4 linked regions of the Homo sapiens genome follow. The protein of the gene in region 4 purifies or fractionates together with the protein of the main gene of each other region. This does not show direct contact. Each region holds a gene or a part of one and is shown on either strand. Other genes may lie near its edges.

Region 1 (3,500 bases), on a different chromosome or scaffold from region 4:
AAGAAGACAGAATTTGCAAATGGAAATGGCGTAAAGGACTTCCATTTTTCACTTCTGAACTTGCTTCATATATTAAACAATAAGTATATCTCGCTTTTCCAAAATATTCGAGAAAAAAGTAAAATGTCAATATTTACCTTAAAGTGATAAATCTTGAATTCATCTGTATACTATATAGACTAACCTTCCTCTAAATCATAAGTAAATACGTAAATTAGTTAAATTAAAAAAAAAAACCTACCTTTAACAATTTTACTGCACAAATTAAATTGTCATCCATAGGATTAGAAAACAGGGCATTCAGCAATTCTCGAAGACCAACCTGAAGAATATCTGCTCTTGTAACCTGTCCATTTGTTCCCTTGATCTTTCGGGACCAAAAAAAAGAACAAAAGGAATGATGCCAAAATATAATACAGATACATAAATGAACTAACAAGGTGTTGGCAAAATAAGCATTTTAGCTAAATCACAAAAGTCACAGGAACACACTCTGATATCTTCACAGAATTTGTTAGAATTACTTTATATGTAACTAAGACCTCTAATAAAACTGGTAAGCTATGGGTAAAATTTAATACCAGAGTCAGCATAATTTAAGCCCACTTTGATGTTACTACTTCATAAAGCTTTCTTTAGTTTGTTCAACTACCACTTTTTTTTGAACACACAGCATTTTATTCTGCTTTTAAAATATTTTAAAATATGGTATTTTGCATCAGAGTGGTATATGTATCTTATATCACTGTGTAGAAGAATTTTAGGTGCAGGAACTAAGCCTTATCTTTACATCCCCCATTGACCTAGCATCATTATCTCCATATAGAAAATGCTCAACAGTATTTATTTTAGATTGCTGTCCATATTTTGGCTTAAACAAAAATTAGACTGAAAAAGAACATGGCATAAGATTTTTCAAAAAACTAAGTCTACCTGTGGTAAAAAGGCATAGTAAGTTAGGCTCTGGACTGGACATAGACCTTTTAGATACAATGACTGAGATGCACATTTGATAGATTCACATTGTCTTATGATGTTTCTGATATTATGGCGTTTACGATCTTAAGTTCTCAAATCAGGGTGTAAGAAGGTATAAGCTTATATCTGATATTCACTAATTTAAAAAATCAAGCAGAGGCTGGGCATGGTGGCTCATGCCTGTAATCCCAGCACTCTGGGAGGCTGAGGCGGGTAGCACCTGAGGTCAGGAGTTTGAGACCAGCGTGGCCAACATGGTGAAACCCCATCTCTGCTAAAAATATAAACATTAGCCAGGCATAGTGGTACGTGCCTGTAATCCCAGCTGCTCAGAAGGCTGAAGCAGGAGAATCGCTTGAACCCGGGAGGCGGAGGTTGTAGTGAGCCGAGATCACGTCACTGCACTCCAGCCTGGGTGACAGAGCGAGACTGTCCCCACCCAAAAAAAAAAAAAAAAAAAAAAAATCAAGCAAATCTATTACACAGTAATAATGCCGTGCTGAATCCAGCACTTCTATTGCCTACTAACAAGCATATACTTAAGTATACCACCCAAATTTATAAATACGTTTAGCTGTAGACTTTGTACAAATGCATTTTTATGTGGAAGATTAATATATAAAATAGGACAAAAAAGAACTATTCTTAGGGGTTGGGGTATTGGGGAGATGTTGGTCAAAGGACACAGAATTTCATTTAGGGGGAATAAGTTCAAGAGATCTCTTGTACACCATGATGACTATAGTTAACAATATATTGTATACATGAAAACTGCTAAAAATTTTAAGTGTTCTTAACACAAAAAAGTATGTCAAGTAATGCATATGTTAAATAGCTTGATTTAGCCATTCTACGATGTATGCATATATCAAAGTGTTGTGTACCATAAAGATATAATTTTTGTCAATTAAAAAAATATTTTTAAAAAACTATTTGGGTGAATTAGAGTGAAAAGCCTAGAGAGACTCTAGTCTCTCTTTTCACTCAGAGTTCTGCAGAGTAAACTGCTTTGAGCCACCATCTGAAAGTCAACATACTAAATGTATTAATATATAAGATGTAAGAACTCAAAAAGGTATCACTGTTGATATCTCAAGAACTTAAATTTGCATGTAAACCACAGCTTCCTAAAAGTACGCAGATTTTTACCTCAGTAATTATTTCCTAACATTCTGTCCATGAGTAAATGTTATGGACAGACGGTCCAGTAAACCACAGACACTAGCAGGTGCCGAAACATGTTTTCTTTCCTCTCTCTTTCATTTCACTCTTAATGTTGTAAAAGTACAATGTGAACACAAATTCCTCATTGAGATCAACTTATGTTCTCAGGCCTTGTTAGTACTTAACAAAAGAAAAACTTCTCACCTCCAGGTTAAGATAAAGTTCTCCCAGAAAGAGTACAAATGCATGAAATCGTTTTCGAGTAACTTCATCCCCTTTTGCAGCTTGATCTTTAACTTCATATTCAGTCCGACATCTAATTAAAGACATATCTTTTATAATCTCACATTGCTTTGCTTTTTAAATAGTCAAACAAAATAACCATTTGTCAGTTTGGTTGTCCACAGCAAGAGGCAAGGACAATGTCCCAATGCTCTTTCTACAATAAAGAAACTGTTCCTGACTATTGAAGAGGCTAGAATATACACCATCTTTTCATACTAAGTCTCCCAGTTTGAAAAAACTGATAGTTTTATTTTCAACGATTTTTATCAAATTTAATATGTTTAAGCAACATAGGTGTAATCTGATTCACAGCATACTGGCAGCCCAAAGAGGGGAGAGAGAGCCTCACCTTGTCTTATAGGTTTTTTACTAAGAAAGCACTGATTTTACCCAAATTGTCTCTGTAATTTTTTTTTTAATACTACAACTTTGAAAAGGATCTTTAAATACACACACACACACACACACACACACACACACACAACCTCCAACTGAAAATAAAATGAATTGTTTTTAAGTCCATTATTCTTGTAATTTCCATTATACGTATCAGAGAAGTACTAATGTGAGGAAAAAATTCCCCCATTAAAACCACAATATAGAAAGCACCGGACTTGTTTTCTATTTCCAATGAGACTGACAGCTTCAAATAACTGATTTTTCCTTGCTCTCTTTGCCCCTGACTTGACCCATTTGCTTCACACAGAGGAGAAAAAGAAGAAATCCTCTTCTTGGAGCTTATTGTCAGTCATAGTTCCTACAAGGTAACTAAACTAGGCACAATAATCCTGTCACTGCCTTCATAAGTGAACTACAGTGTCAGATATTGTTACTAACATAGATTTTTTAAATGGACTGTAAAAGTTTATCATTTTGTTATTAAGTATTTGTAATCTTTATTGATAAGGTGAGAAAACTCTGGGAAAGTAACTTGCTTCACAAAACTGGTTTTGACAGTTTTCCTTTTCAAGACAAAGGGAAAAGCTATGGGTACTGAATGGTTTCCACGCAGCCAGTTTAGGTTGACTTTGTAAACAATTTTTAACAAAGAAAAAATAAATTACCTCTTGTTC
Region 2 (3,364 bases), on a different chromosome or scaffold from region 4:
AGAGGTCTGGCCACTGGCCATGTGCTGTCCCCACCTTTGTGGTGACCACCTCCCTCAGAAAAGACCCAAATATCAGCTGTGTGGTGTCCCTCCTTGAGTGCCTAGGTTCTGGTAAGCCCACCTTTCCCTTCGGTTTCCCCAGCTCCAGGGGTAGTGGCTGTATCCTGCAGTTACTAATACCTAGGCAACTTTACAGCCCCTGTTGGAAAACCCATTGAATCTTATTCCTGATTCCCGATTGGGCCCCAACTGATACAATCTATACAGCACTCAGAACAATATCAGGCACACAGTAAACACTATGTGAGTGTCAAATCCTGTATTTGTCCAAGTAGGTGAAAAAAGTAACACTGCCCATCAGAACACAGCCAAGGATGCTATGTGCCTGACAAACCCCATGGTGCATAAAGACCATCTTCTGTGGGAGCCTCCAGTCCACACCCGTGACTGTCACTCAATCACCCAGGCATGCTGTAAAGCAAATGATGACACAGCTTCCATAGCATTAGCAATTTTTTATTTTTCCTTTTTTGTTGCATAGGAAATGCAGTACTTGCTTCCAGTAATTGTATTGTAATGTGAGAAGGTGGTAGCACTAATGGTTGAATACAAGAGTTAAACTAATCCACACCAGCTCAAAAAACCTGTGGAGATTTAGTTGAATAAGAATGGACGCCCACAGTGATTCTCAACCAATTACAAATTTTCACAGAACACAGTAAAACTAAAAGGGTAACTATGAGAGTCAATACAAGTATACTAGAGGCACAGGGGGCCCGGCTCATAAAAACAGATTTCAGACCAAGTTATTAACACGGGGGGTGTTTCGTTTCATAACAGATCTCTTACCATCACTGGAAGTGTTCCATCCCCTCCCCCTACAATTTGAAATGGAAAACAGAGGTATTCCGAGTGGACAGATTTCCATGTGTGGTGGGAAAAGTCCCCAGTGAATTTTGCTCTGGTGAGAGGGCAGGGCTAAGGGTGGGGCGGGGGATCAGGGATTTGCCTTTGAGAGTCTTCCTAAAGGACCTCCTAGAACCTGATAAAGCTCCTAGTCTAGGTCTAGTTAGTATCTCAGTGGCGAGGCTACCAAATGCCTTCGCAGTGCAGAGACGATGGTCTGAGACCAGGGAGAAGGCACCGAGCCGTTAGTTCTCTCAAGCCTCTGTCCCAGCGGAGCTAGCGGCCTTATGACCTTCGGTTGCAATGTCAAAAGAAAAAAAAACAAACAAAAAAAAAAGCCAAAAAAAAAAAAAAAAAACCCAAAAAGGCTAACTTACAGACTATTATCAAAAAATAAAAATTTAAAAAATAAGAACAACACAAATAAGTCAAAGGAAAAATAAAAGCTTTTTTCATTTTGAGAAGTTGAGTATAAAAACAGCAGGAAAAATGGCCCAATACATTGGACACTATTTGTCCTTGAAACCACTGCAGAGATACAAAAGTTCACATTGTATGACCTGGTGGGTGTCTTCCACCATGAAGGTGCTCTGGTTAGATTAGAGGTAGCACTTCCACTGTATGCTCTTGTGGTTCAGACACATTTTGGGAAAGTTTATTTTTCTGAATCAAATAGGCGAATGCATCTACATGTAAAACTCAGGATACCAGGCACACAGATGAGGTCCCACCCCCACACACTGTCTCCCTGTTCTCACGACCAGCTGTGGGTGGTCCCCCTTATCTTTCTAAGCATTTCCGCTATCTGCTCCCCACATACCATCCCCCTAATCTGGGAAAGGTAACTCTTTGGGGAATAAAAGGCAGATGGGTGCTGGTTTAGGGAAAAAAATGAGATGAAATTTATTTAATTTGGGAAGCAAGTAATTTCAAATTTAGACCAAAAAAAGTATATTAAAAAAATCCCGTGTTAATAGCAAACTTCTTTTTCTTATGAATCGGGCCCAAAGTTTGTACAGAGTTTTATTTTTGAAGAAAATATTGCAACTGTGCATGAAACTAAATAGCCATGTGATTTCTTACATTTTTTTTCTTATTTTTCCTTTTAATATGAGGAGGTCTGGTGTGAAGACAGATCAAGCATGGGTACCTGGCTTGAACATTGTCCATTAAGAAAATGTATCAGTCTCCGCATAGCATCAGTCAAGGGTCAAGGAAAATGCCCCTGACTTGCAAATGTTCTCAGAGTGTCTTCGCAGCACAGTTCTTGAAATTCAAATAGTCGTTTTGAGACAAAAATCTCGCCAGGTACTGATTTCTGAAATCAAACACCCATGCTTGTCCCCTAGGAAAAAGAAAACAAAAAACAAAAACAAAAACAAAACACGAGTAATACTGAATTTAAGTAAATGTATACCTCCAAAATACTGAAAACAGCCGAAATCAAGAAAAGACAGAATTTGCGTTCTCAGTGAAATACCTTTAAACCTAGCTGACAAGAACCAAGTCGGAAAAAAAGACTAACATAACTTTGAGTAATATTCATACAGTTCACTAAGCATTATGGAATCGCATGCATTAATATTGTACGGTTATTTTACATCACCTATACCAGAAGGTCCTGACTGACAGACAGCGAAGGCTACCGGTGTAGAAAAATCTTACTTCAGAAGAGCAATATAATACAGATTTCACAGGCACTACATTTTAATATATCAGGTATTATGCTGGTTTTCTTATAATTCTTTCTGTCCTAAAGCTGGCATTATAACAATGACCAAAAAGGCAAGGATTGAAGTAAACGGAAAGTAGATACCAAAGTTGATATAGTTTTTTTCTTCAGATAGATTAGTGCATAGTTCTCATGCAGATAAACACTGCTATGCATTTACACTGTTGGAAAGCAGAGTGAATTGAGCCCAAGTTGTCACATTTGTGTAAATCATTTTGTCAGCCTATAATAGCACCATGTAATGGATTTGCATTAAACATTAAATTGATTTCAAAATTGGTGACACAGTATTCACTACAGTTAAGTGCTATGGAATAGCTTCAATGTTACCTGCTATATATCAAAGCAATTTTCATCCCACTGCTTTTTTATTGGAAAAAATAAAAGGAAAACATACACGACGCTAATTAGACGAATGCACAGCCTTGGACGTGGAGAAGGCAGAGCGGGTTTACTGTCAAACAGTAAATACATGCATTGACTTCAAGACAGAATTGGCCTTGGAAGCCTTTTTGAATGAAAGCTGAGCCGGTGGGCAGTGCAGCTTTCTGAGACTGTCTTTGGACAGATCTCGAAGGGTGGGTTTTGAGGTGCCACTGAAGCTCTCCTTACATTACTATGGTGGTTGTGTTTTAGATTTGTTCTATGGAGGCCTGCTACCAGAAATAAAAAAGAAAAGAAAGAATGAAGACAAGAAAGAAAACAGAAGCAAACAAAAAGAGAGAG
Region 3 (3,500 bases), on a different chromosome or scaffold from region 4:
GGGCACCTGTGGTCCCAGCTACTCGGGAGGCTGAGGCAGGAGAATTGCTCGAACCCAGAAGGCGGAGGTTGCAGTGAGCCAAGATCGTGCCACTGCACTCCAGCCTGGCGACAGAGTGAGACTCTGTCTCAAAAAAAAAAAGAAAACTGAGGAATCTATAAATAAGACCTACCAAAAAAATAAGAGACCCAAAATTCCCAGTATGAAGATGAGAGAAGTCCTGGTACAGTAACTGTGCAGCAATGCAAGAGAACTAGTCCTGATGGGAACAAAAAGAGAAGGGCCTCAGGAAAGATATCAGCAAGCGGAAAAAAAAGGACTTTTGACGGTTCTACTAGAAATACTCAGGCTGGACTAGCAGAAGTGCATAGAAAACTAGGCAAAAGAAAAAATAAGCAATAATTATTGCAAATCATAAAAATTTATGTAAGAAATTACATGTAATTATTTTTTAGCTGTGAACAATAGCTATATAAAAATAACTATGTAAACATTGAATATAGATTGAACCAAAAGTTGTGATACAGCTCTACTGAAAATCCAGAAGAAGAGTAAGTGTGTATTGAGGAGAGTGGGTATAAGACAAATCATTTTTCGCTGAAGAAAGTTAGTTGCTAATGACCAAAAAAAAAAAAAAAAAAAAAAAAAAATCAGGTAATAACAGTATAAACATGGTATTCAGCTATGGAGCTAAGTCAGGAAAGTTAAGAATCAGAGGTGGAGAAGGGAAGCACATGGGACTGTTTTTCACTGTAAGCCCTGAAGTACTACTTAAACGATGCACTGCTATTAGTTTGATTAAGAAATCAAAAAGCAGCTTACTTTTTTTTTTTTTTTTTTTGAGATGAAGTCTCGCTCTTGTCTCCCAGGCTGGAGTGCAATGGCTCAATCTCGGCTCACTGCAACCTCTGCCTCCTGGGTTCATGTGATTCTCCTGCCTCAGCCTCCCGAGTAGCTGAGATTACAGGTTCCTGCCACCACGCCCAGCTAATTTTTGTATTTTTAGTAGAGACGGGGTTTCACCATGTTGGCCAGGCTCATCTCGAGCCCCTGATCTCAGGTGATCCACCCACCTTGGCCTCCCAAAGTGCTGGGATTACAGGCATGGGCCACCACGCCAGGCCAAAAAGCAGCTTACTTTTGAATCTCAGAGTCACTGCAGGCCTGCAACAAATAGCTTTTTGGTCCTTTTCTAAATGCAGATTTAGTGCAAAAAGGTTATTAACATCCCTATTAATCACTTGTGCCCTTTGTTATTTATAATATATCTATTACTCTAAGTAGCTTTATAATAATGACCATGCTGGCAACACTATTAGTAATTTTTTAAAAAATCATCACCAGCAGCTACCATTTACTATTTACAAGGTGCCAGGAAATGTATAAAGTGTTTATGAACATTATTTCTCTTAATCCTTACTCTCAATACTGTGACGAGTAAATGGGACCAGAAAAGTTAAGTAATTTGCCAAGACTATATAGCTGGTAAATGAGAAAGCCTGGATTCTAACTAGGATGGGCATTTGTTCCAATCTTTCCAGGACAGTTACTATTTGCACTTGGTGTTCTGGCATAGGGATCAACTGTACTCTCAACGATATTCCAGACAGGATGATAAATTCTATGGTAACCCTAATTCTAACTGACTCCAGAGCTTGTTCTTAACCACTAATCTATATTGCCTCTCCCAGGAAAGAGGGAGAGTGGAACAGCACAGTTACTGGAATAAGCAACTCTGTAGGTAGTCCCCAATTCTTAGGGTGTACAATTTCTTCAGCTAAGACATAGTTTATACATAGGAAATTAGGAAATTGTACCAGGAGTTCACTTTTTAAATTTATTTTTATTTTTGGAGACAGGGTCTCACTCTGTTGCCCAAGCTGGAGTATAATGGCATGATCATAGCTGTCATCTCAATCTTCTGGGCTCCAGTGATTGTCCCACCTCAGCCTCCCAAGTAACTGAGACCACAGGCACACCCCACCATAACCCGCTAATTTTTTTACTTTTTGTAGAGACAGAGTCTCACAATGTTGCTTAGGCTGGTCTCCAACTACTAGGCTCAAGTGATTCTCCTGCCTCAGCCTCCCAAAGTGCAAGGATGACAGGTGTGAGCCACCACACCTGGCCTCTACAGGAATTGAATTACCTGTCCCAGCAATGCCATGAGACGAGATGGAGGCACCACACTGACTTCGCCAGCTAAGGCCTGGGCAATTGCTGCTCTTCTCTTTTCTTTGCTACTTCCATCTGGGTATGCCTGAAAAAGGAGAGGGTGTAGCATCATTTCCAAGAAGCAACAACAAGATATGAGTGTGCTTATTTAAAACAAACAAGCAGAAGCATACACAGAGGAAAATGTGAAAAGAAATTACCCAGTTAAAGAAGGGATTAGTTGAACTAATTTAGTTTTTGAAAATGACTTCCCAATTCTGCCCGCTTGCATTTCAAAAGTATGAGTTGGGAGAAAACTGAGGTCAGCCAATCCACACTATTATTATTTTTTCACTGAGTTCCTGGCCAAAGGACACACTGCTATTTTTCTGAAAAGAGTCCAAGTAAACCACATTAAACCCAGAGTTGTTCTTCCAGTTTTTGAAAAATTTGCAGAACCAAGAATTCTTTTATACTCTTTAGTAATTTCTTAAATGGCTCCCAGCACAGAAGTGCTTCACCACCTCTAAGTTAAATCCTGTCCTGGTAATCTAAAATCCTTTCCTTTATCCTCATAGATTTTGTAGGTTTACTCTAACATTCTATTATCCAGTGCCTATTAAGTTCTTCTTCCTCCTGAGAAAATACTTGCAAACTACCCATCTGACAAGGGATTAATAACCAGAATATGGCTGGGCAGGGTGGCTCACGCCTGTAATCCCAACATTTTCGGGGGCTGAGGCTGGCAGATCACCCGAGGTCAGGAGTTTGTGACCAGCCTGGCCAACATGGTGAAACTCTGTCGCTACTAAAAATAGAAAAACTAGCCAGGCCATAGTGGTGGGTGCCTGTAATCTCAGCTACTCGGGAGGCTGAGGCAGGAGAATTCCTGGAACCTGGGAGGTGGAGGTTGCAGTGAGCTAAGATCGTGCCATTGCACTCCAGCCGGGGAGACAACAGCAAGACTCTGTCTCAGAAAAATAAATAAACAAATAAATAAATAACCAGAATACAGGGCCAAGTGTGGTGGCTCATGCCTGTCATCCTAGCACTTTGGGAGGCCGAGGCGGGTGGACTGCTTGAGGCCAGGACTTCGAGACCAACCTGGCCAACATGGCGAAACCCCATCTCTACTGAAAACTCAAAAATTAGCTGAGTGTGGTGGCACACACCAGTAATCCCAGCTACTTGGTGGCTGAGGCACGAGAATTACTTGGACCCAGGAAGCGGAGGCTGCAGTGAGCCGAGATCACGCCACTGCACTCCAGCCTGGGTAACAGAGCTCTGTCTCAAAAACAACAACAACAACAACAACAAAACCCAGAATATATAAGGAGCTCAAACAA
Region 4 (3,500 bases):
TTTTACTGTGATATGCAATTTACTTTAGACACCAACTGCTCATGCAGAGATTATCAAGAGTCACAGGTCATAGGGCATTTTAAGTGGAGCCTGGCAACACTTGAGCTCACTGTAATAGCAACAGGTGGCTACAAAATTATTACAGTATTACAGTATGTACTATAGTTAATTTTATGCAGTTATTACTCAAGCTTTACTTTCTCTGGACTGCTAGTGGCACCATGTACTGTGTGCATAAGTTTTTATAAAGTTTAACTTTTTATGATTCGTATGTATTTTGTGGTAGGAAAATGATAAACTAGTATATACATCTATTTTATGTATTTGTGATGTACTTATCTTTTCTTAAATTTTAAAAATATTTCTAAGCTATGTGATTCGTCTTCAAGTTTTTTCAAATTGTTGCAAATCTCCAAAAAATGTTCCAATATATTTATTGAAAAAACTCCACGTATAAATGGACACACTCAACTCAAACCCGTGTTGTTCAAGGGTCAATTTTACTTTTCCCAATGGTAGGATTTATCATATTCTGTTATGGAAATGCGTTTACATTCAATTGGAATAATCCCCATTGGAAAAAAAAAGTGCATTTACTGTCACCAATACATGATGGCTCTTTAGGACCAAGTGCTGTATCTGTACTATCCTGCTGTTATCTACCTAAGAGCAATACTTTTAATTTTTTTTTTGAAATGGAGTCTTGCTCCTGTCACGCAGGCTGGAATGCAGTGGCGTGATCTCGGCTCACTGCAACCTCCACCTCCCGGGTTCAAGCGATTCTCCTTCCTCAGCCTCCCGAGTAGCTGGGATTACAGGCGTGCGCCACCACACCTGGCTAATTTTTGTATTTTTAGTAGAGACAGGGTTTCGCCATGTTGGCCAGGCTGGTCTCAAACTCCTGAGCTCAGGTGATCCACCCGCCTCAGCCTCGCAAAGTGCTAGGATTACAGGCGTGAGCCACCGCTCCCAGCCGAGCAATACATTTTTGTTGGATAAATGAATACAACAATTTTCCTAACTTACTATAAGAAATGAAGAGAAAGGCTGGGCATGGTGGCTCACCCCTGTAATCCCAGCACTTTGGGAGGCCGAGGGAGGATCACTTGTTGTCAAAAGTTCAAGACCAGCCCGGCAAACATGGTGAAACCCCATCTCTACAACAACACAAAAATTAGTCAGGCATGGTGGCATGCACCTGTAATTCCACCTACTCTGGAGGCTGAGGCAGGAGAATCGCTTGAACCCGGGAGGTGGAGGTTGCAGTGAGCTGAGATCACACCACTGCACTCCAACCTGGGCAACAGAGCAAGACTCCATCTCGGGGGTAAAAAAAAAAAAAAAAAGAGAAAATATTTCATAAAACGAAGAACTGTATTAGCAAAAAAGTCAAATTTACAAACTTAAGCTACCTTCTCCTTTTGTGAGGAAATCAAGGCTAATAACATATATAATGACACACACACACACACACACACACACACACACACAATTTTCCTAAAGCAACCAAAGATTTACGAAATACCTTACTATAATTTTCAGTGATTATGGTATTGTGGTTATTTTATTCTATTTTTTTTTTGAGACAGAGTGTCACTCTGTTGCCCAGGCTGGACTGTGGTGGCACCATCTCGGCTCACTGCAACCTCTGCCTCCTGGGTTGAAAGGATCCTCCTGCCTCAACCTCCAGAGTAGCTGGGATTACAGGAATGCACCACTACGCCCAGCTAATTTTTTTATTTTTTATTAGAGACAGGGTTTCACCATGTTGGCCAGGCTGGTCTCGAACTCCTGGCCTCAAGTGATCTGCCTGCCTTGGCCTCCCAATGTTGAGATTACAGGTGACCCACCATGCCCGGTCGGCTATGTTTTTTTTTTAAAGTCCTTGTATTTTACAGATATACAATGACCGCTTTAAGGTTGACAATAACAGAATTGCTTCAAAATAATGGAAGGGATACAGAGGAAATAATATTGACTATGTGCTAATATTGCTAAATTGGGCATGGGTACATGGGGAGTTCAATTTATTATACTATTCACTCTAATTCTGTATGTTTTGGGAAGAAAAGCAAATAGCAATTACATACACATATAACACATGGACTGCTGGCAATTCTGAGAAGCCAACACTTACTATTTTACTATGGAGTAAGGTAGGAAATGCCAGCCGGGCGCAGTGGCTCACGCCTGTAACCTCAGCACTTTGGGAGACTGAGGCGGACCGATCACTTGAGGTCAGGAGTTCAAGACCAGCCTGGCCAATATGGCAAAACCCTGTCGACTAAAAATACAAAAATTAGCCGGGCGTGGTGGCCCACACCTGCAATCCCAATTACTCGGGACGCTGAGGCCAGGAGGTGGAGGTTGCAGTGAGCCAAGATCATGCCACTACACTCCAGCCTGGGTGACAGAGCTAGACTCTGTCTCAAAAAAAAAAAGGGGGGGGGGCAGGGAGCAGGGTAGAAAATGCTTTTCTATCTTACTCCATAGTAACATAGTAAGTTACTATGAACATTTTGGTGACTCTGAATGAAAACTAGTAAAATACATATTAATAGATGCCATCATGCATTATAATTACTAGTTTTTTGCTTTCAATTTTTGCTCCCAAATTCTGAACATTTTTAAAGCAAAAAGAAAAAGTATACAAGTAAAAAATGTGGACAGAAGCTTTAGCTATTTTTCCTTTTCTAAACAACTTTTCAGTGTCAATGACAGTATCTGCTAACATTCCAAAGATTTTAGAAAAGAACATAGTTCAATTTCCTTCATAAATTATTAAACCTTCATGTTAAACCTTCATGGAAGGAAGGGTAGGCTTGAGTTTGATAAATGGAAGAAAACTCATTTCAGATATTAGAATCAGTGTTAATGATTAAGTAATTTCATTTTCAGGTTGAGATCTAGAATATAAAAACCTCAATTTGAACTACAAAATTTCTGTCTTGCTACATAAAAAATAACAAAACTCCCGATCAGACTTTACAATTTACTACAATCTTCTAATAATATGGCTACTAGTGCCTTCTCTGGCTAACACTGAAATCAAACCCTCACTGAAAGGTACTCACCCTAGGCAGTTAGTTACAATCACATGCTTTCCTCATCACTGTGGTTGTTTAGGATTAACCAAGCAATTGCTTAGTGCAAAAAACCAAAACAATAATCTCAAACAATTGCAAAATACAAATAAACACGGTGGGAGGGTGTACCAATGAATCCATGAAACAGTATTAAAGCCGACTTCACTTTAGCTGCAGTTTCTCAGATCCAGAGGTAGCAATCTACAAAGTTGGAAATGCCTGTAAAAGCACTAGCCCCAGTAAAATACCTTGGTGAAGGTTACATACACACCATTACAAATAAATGGTCGATGATTTTGCATCACAGATGCATCCTTCACTTGAAACTGCGCTTCGCAAGTGCTGCTTGCTCACTTATTACCCATCATGAAAAGGAGAAAAAAGTACAGTATTAGAATCTACTACCAAATTAAT

Evidence for each region.
Region 1: the proteins of LUC7L3 (region 4) and PAIP1 fractionate together in Homo sapiens (co-fractionation; one large-scale study listed by BioGRID). This does not show direct contact.
Region 2: the proteins of LUC7L3 (region 4) and NFIA fractionate together in Homo sapiens (co-fractionation; one large-scale study listed by BioGRID). This does not show direct contact.
Region 3: the proteins of LUC7L3 (region 4) and SMU1 fractionate together in Homo sapiens (co-fractionation; one large-scale study listed by BioGRID). This does not show direct contact.

Annotation. Positions count from the first base shown.
Region 1 is NC_000005.10:43,536,578-43,540,077, forward strand, and holds part of PAIP1 (polyadenylate-binding protein-interacting protein 1), read right to left. Parts: intron 2,459-3,500; coding exon 2,347-2,458; intron 368-2,346; coding exon 242-367; intron 1-241. UniProt on the Homo sapiens protein: Acts as a coactivator in the regulation of translation initiation of poly(A)-containing mRNAs. Its stimulatory activity on translation is mediated via its action on PABPC1. Competes with PAIP2 for binding to PABPC1.
Region 2 is NC_000001.11:61,459,925-61,463,288, reverse strand, and holds the end of NFIA (nuclear factor 1 A-type), read right to left. Parts: 3' UTR 501-3,364; downstream 1-500.
Region 3 is NC_000009.12:33,066,675-33,070,174, forward strand, and holds part of SMU1 (WD40 repeat-containing protein SMU1), read right to left. Parts: intron 2,261-3,500; coding exon 2,150-2,260; intron 1-2,149. UniProt on the Homo sapiens protein: Involved in pre-mRNA splicing as a component of the spliceosome. Regulates alternative splicing of the HSPG2 pre-mRNA. Required for normal accumulation of IK.
Region 4 is NC_000017.11:50,722,603-50,726,102, reverse strand, and holds part of LUC7L3 (luc7-like protein 3), read right to left. Parts: intron 1-3,500. UniProt on the Homo sapiens protein: Binds cAMP regulatory element DNA sequence. May play a role in RNA splicing.